Linked DNA regions of Homo sapiens: region 1 is linked to region 2. Evidence: fine-mapped expression QTL. A gene starts in region 2. The other region holds a variant in brackets. All regions are shown on one strand. Distances are between the middles of the regions.

Region 1 (2,924 bases), 130 kb before region 2:
ATATATTATAATCATACCTGTTGGCTCTATCCCACTATTTGACTATTAATGCCTATGACAAAAAGTAAGGGAATAGCCCCAGGGTCCCAGGTAGGAGACTGGAAATTGGTCAAATGACCAGCATGTGTCTCTCCTCCAAGTCTTGCCAAAGGCAGGTGTCATCTACTCAAGGGTTATAGTACAAGGAAGATGATTCTTGTGGTACAAATGTGAGTTCTTCTCCAGACCATCAATATAGATTGGATTTATACACTGATCGCTGTGTCTCTCCTTCGTAATAACCTTACCCCATGTTGCAACAAACATGGACTTGTTACAACATCCCAGAGTGAAATCTGAATGTGGTCAAGAAAGTTCAGAAACAATAAGAGTGATGCAATGCATACCACAACTCAGGCCCAGTGCAAAAGTCAGGCCCCAGCCCTTCCCATATAAGGGACTTGGTCATTTGAAAAATCAAAACCCAAAAGGAACAACTATAGGGACCTGTAATCAATTAGAATATTCTTCCAGAAGAGACCTGACTGAATTGATTTCTCATGCCAGACCAGATGCCACTGAAATACTGTTTGACCAAATGGAAATAACAGCTTAGATTGGGCTGCAGAGTCTTCCCCATGGAGCACACACAGAAATCTTCTGTCACAGGGTCAGAAGACTCTGGCAGAGGTAGTAGCTCTAGACCAGGCACCTAATTCTAGCAAGAGCTGCATATGTACCACTCCAGAAAAATGGATGTCTACTATTAAAGGAGACGCCAGAGCCATCTTTTGAAAAAAGAGTCTATTCTACCACCTGGCTCCTGACCTATTGGCTGTAGCTTATATGTGTTTGCTCAGTCTCCATTTGCTGAGGGATTCATTGAAAGGCTTTGTTTTAAATTGGAGGAATTCTCAGTTAAGAGAAAGAAATAGCAGAATTATCATCAATAAAGGGTATGTAACAACAAAAGATTCAAATATGTTTATATTCCAACAATAATCAATTAGTTAACTAAGATGGGAAACCAATAGCAATCTAAAAATATATAAATCCAGGAATACCTTTTACAGGACATGTATAAGACCTGTGTGGAAAACTTTGCTACAAAACTTTGCTTAGAGACAGAAGAGAAATCTGAATAAATTAAGGCACATACCAAATCCTGGATGAAAAGATCTAATATATAAGCATGAACTTTTAAAGGTTAATTTATATTGGAATTATGCAATGTCAATTTTTAAACTCCCCAAAGAATTTAGGGGTTGGGGAATTCACAGATTAAAATTTTTTTCAGGAAAAATAAACTGGTGAAAATAGATAAGGGCATGGAAAAAAAAAAAGGAGAATGAAAGGGTATATATTGGCACAGGAAGAAGAGATGGATCAATGGACTGGAAGAATAAGTCTAGAAAGAGACTTAGCCATAAACAAAAATAAGTATACACCAAAGGTAGCAACTTGAATCAGTGAGGGAAGACTGATTCTGTATAGCTAAATGATAAACTGGACAGTTATGTGATAGAAAAAGTGTCAATATCTTTCATATATGTCCTTTATATTATGGAAACTTTTTAAAATAAAGAAAAAGATAAATTCTTTAGTAGAAAATTGGGCAAAGGCTATTTAATAGACAATTCACACAAAGAGACACACAGAGTCAAAGACATAAAAATTGTTCAACTATGCTAGTAGTATGAGAAATGCAAATTAAAACAAGTTGCCTGTGTGTTTTTTTATTTTTTACTTATCAA[AC/C]TCATAAAGGTTTTAAGTTATAACATCAACTTGTGAAGTGCAGGGAAAATAATGCCTGTAACCTGCCTGGTGGACAATCCAGCAATCCTAAAAACGTGTTCACCACCAATTCCATAGCTATACATTTATCCTAAGGAAATAATTATGATGTTGGACAGAGATTTTTCTACAGGTGGTTTAAGAAAGCATTGTTTAGGTTCTGGGAAGAATCTAAACCAGGGGACTGATTATATGAGGTTTAACATATTCATATAATATAATACTGGGCATTAAGTAATGTTGAAAAAGGAGATTTAATGACATTGGAAAATGTTTATAACTGGAAAAGATGCTACAAATTATTACTATATGATCCCATGTTGGTTAAAAAAAAGTACACACAAAAGTCTAGATGGATATAGAACAAATGTTAGCAGGTGTTACCTCTGAGAGGCCTATTACAGGTGATTTTTATATTCTTTGTGCTTTTCTGAATTTTCTAACTTTCTACACAAAACTATATTTTCAGTTCTTTTCCAAAACAATTGGAAAGATATATTTTCAAGTTCCATTGGTTTTCTCTGAGTGCTAGAACTATGGACAATTTAAATTTTTAGTATTATTTTCTATATTTCTCAAAATTTTCTGCAAGATTAGTTTAAAAAAAGAAAAGAAAAACCACACACACACACACACACATACCCCACCCTCCCAAGGGTGTTTTCTTAGGAGATCAGACCCAGAAAATTAGCTAAAATGCAGAGAAACACAGGCCATGTGCTGACTGACAAACCCCCTGTAGAGTGATATTAATCTGAGCTCCTCCACAGCAGTGCGTAGTCTTTACTGGATTCTGTAGTCCCAGCACCTACTACACGGCATCTTAGGTGCTCAACACCTATTCTGTTGAGTAGAAAATACTACCACCACCACCATTCTAGAAGTCTTTTCTTTTATTGTCCCACCAATGCGAAGATACTTCAAAGTGTTGGTGTTGGGTATAATATCCTTACAGTGGAGTCCTGATAACATAGAGTAACACTAATTATTTACAATCTCTAAAGTGCCATAGAAAAGGTTTCCATTCAAGAAAACTAACCCAAGTATAATCAACTCTGCAATATCAAGAAAAGGGAAAATCCCACTGTTAGAAGTTCTTTTCCTAAGTTGTCTTTTCTTCTTCTTCCTTTTTTTTTTGAGAGCCATGGCAA
Region 2 (2,924 bases):
TGAACCCCAGTGGGATCTTATTTGTGCCCCTCCTGTCACTGTTATATTATGAATTAATCATAGTTATTTTTGTGCATGCCTTAGCTGTGCTAGTATTCATAGACTATTTGAACACAAGAACTAGGGATTATAATCCTTGTCTTCTCCAACAGTCTGCCTTGCATTGGCCCACACATAACAGGCACTGAAAAGGGGTTGGTTGTGCCAAATGTCTCCTCACCCTTTATGCTGATAATTCTGAATGTAACATGGGCTACATTTTGAATTATGGTGTCCTTGTAACCAAAGAATTAGGATAAACTGAAAAAAAAGGTGGGTCCTATGCCTTTCTCTTTTTATGAAAAAGGGAAAAGAAGAAGATACATAGATTCAGGACAATGTTCTCTTCAGAGATGGGCAGCAGCATAGAACAGTGGCTTGAACTCCAGCTCTGGAATCAGACTTGAGGCAGCTGATCATGCAAAGATGAAAGGAAAGTGTTCTAGGAATTATCTAGAATCCTGAATATACCACTTAATAGTTCTGAGACCGTGGGCAAGTCAGCCAGCCTCACTCACTATACTTTACCTTCTCAACAGTAAGACAAGCTTCTGTCAGGATTAAAACAGATAACCCATGGAAAGCATCTATCTCTATGTCTGACACATAGTAGAGCTTAATAAACATTTTCTATTATTGCTACGGTTGTTGTTACTGTTAGCAACATTGAGGCTGAGTAAAATGAATTCTTTTTGGATAGAAAGATGGTCTCATGGTCAAGTGTTTTTACCCAAATCTCAAGGAGATTCTAAATAGCAGCTAAGAACCAGGGGATACTTCTCTGGCCAAAAGTCTACTGAGACAAGGTCTTGGGGGCAGAGGCTAGGCCAGGTAGTTTGTGGTGCACATAGAATCACTGTACCTACCCAGCATGAAGGTGTTGGCCCCCAAGGAGCTAACTGGAGGGTAGCATGCTGGAAGACACTACCAGTGTTATAGGAGGCAAAAAGAAATTATTTAGGTAGACATTTAGGGTAAAGTGAGTCCCCAGCAGAAAACTTTCCTTTTAACAAAAAGCAGCTCAAAAATAGCTCCCTTTCTAACCACACACAGTTAAAAAAAATCACTTCTCTTCTAACAACAAGTAACCTGAAAGTTCAGGCTGTAAAATACAGATAAGACAGCTCAAGCACAGAAGAAGGGGTGGAAGTCTCCTGGGTAATTGCCAAACTTCACACTTATACAATGGGCCCCAGTAAAACAGTGGGTCTTAATAAGCACATTCCTTTCCCTTTAGGTGCACTAAGATAGAGAAACTAAAAGCAGACTCATGGGGCGGATGCCTGCAGCTGCAAGAAGATGTATGGGAACAGACACAGAAACTCTCCCTCCCAGATAAGCAAGACAAAGAAACACAGACTAAGAGTCAGCCTATGTGGTCAGGGAATGGGATAAAAGCTGATAAAAAAAATTCTGCTCTATATAGATAGCACACTTGGTCGCAGCTAAACCATCAGGCCCTAAGAGGATAAGACATCCCCTCCTCATGAGGCCCCTCCTCCCTAGACCATTTATAAAAACCCTGACATTTTTACTACTGCTTAGCAACCTGCTCGGGACCCCTCTCTGTGACTGTGAGCTGTTCTGTTCTTTTGCCTATTAAACTCCTGCTCCAAACTCACTCGATGTGTGTGTGCATGTCCTTGACCTCAATATCTGGTCGTGTGACCAAGAACCTCAGTATTCACCCCAGACAACAAGGCTGCTTCATTTTGAGGGCTCGTCTGGGATTTGAAGGTGACTTCATCAGAATGGTGAGTAAAGGAGCGGACTCTACTTTCACTTCCGAGGCTTCTTGTCCTCCGTTTTTATTCTCTCAAATAACTATCAAAAACACCGGGCATCTGACAGCTGATTAAGGAGCCACAAGGGCTGGCCACCAGTCTTGAAGACTCAGATGTGAGGCTTGCTGGGGAGGACCTGCCCTCAGGGTGCCGGGAATGTTGGCTGTGTCCAAACTAGTTTCTTTTCACAGAAAGCCTGGTTGTTGTATGGGGCTGGAATAGGTCCTGGAGCAACTGAGAATTTCTGGCCAGGGCCACACCCTGGTGTTATTCAAAAGGCTCCTGGACTGACCCCAGCCTCTGATTGCCTGACTGGGTGTCAGCCATAGGATCTCCAAGTTTTCCTATTGCAAATCTTATTTTCCTCCTTTCCTTTCTGCAGTCACCATGTCTCCCATCTCCTCTCTGTATGCAATGCTGCAGGAATTTTTATAGCCCAGGAAATAATTCAATTAGGCAGGTTTAGCAACCACCGTAGTAACCAGGAATGCAGGTTAAGGGATTGCTGTTTTTCTGACTTTTTACAGACAGGGGAATTCCATGATCCAGATCTCAAAGACTATTTAACTCCTAATGATAATACTTCCTGGGGTTGGGTGGGAGGTTATTTTCCCCCCAGTAAATGCCCCTCTGTCCACTTAGGCTGTTTCTTTTCCCATGTGAGGAACCAGCACTGTCCAGTCGGACCGGATAGCCCCTCTATGAGGCAAACTAACTTTCTCCTGTTAGGAGGTATGCTGTGGGGACAGCATGCCACAGGTCAGACTTCTCTCTCCATCCTTTGTTTAAAGAGCATATGGAGGCAAAGTTACTGCCTGGTATTCCACTAGCACCACCTAGTAAAATGGGAATCCTCTCCATGAGGAATCTTGTCTGCCCTTTGCTAAAAGTCTCTGGCTTTTCAGTTCTCCTCCCTTTTACATCCCTCTAATAGAGACCAAACCTTATGCCCCCTCTGCAAGTGGGAGAACTCTGCTTTCAGCAGCAAGGAGGAACATGTCCTCCAAAACCAAATTTTAGTCTCAGTACTCTCTCTGTTAGCAGGAAGGCCACCATTTGACCCTTACGTTCTCTGAAGACACCCATTCTGCCTACAACTAG

The links. PIP is the estimated chance that this variant, and not a neighbour inherited with it, causes the effect.
Region 1: its variant is fine-mapped to the expression of SMANTIS in whole blood (INTERVAL, PIP 0.92).

The regions. Positions count from the first base shown.
Region 1 is chr2:69,924,737-69,927,660 of GRCh38, reverse strand. The region is part of intron 3 of MXD1 (MAX dimerization protein 1); the gene reads right to left. Among named protein-coding and RNA genes, the nearest start is that of MXD1, 11 kb to the right of the region's middle. RefSeq lists an enhancer at 230-524. The variant AC/C (reference allele first, on the strand shown) is at 1,734.
Region 2 is chr2:69,797,657-69,800,580 of GRCh38, reverse strand. It overlaps SMANTIS (SMARCA4 interacting SWI/SNF chromatin remodeling complex scaffold lncRNA), which reads left to right and starts at 1,583. Exons shown (of 3, transcript NR_164155.1): 1 at 1,583-1,793. The region is part of intron 3 of ANXA4 (annexin A4); the gene reads right to left.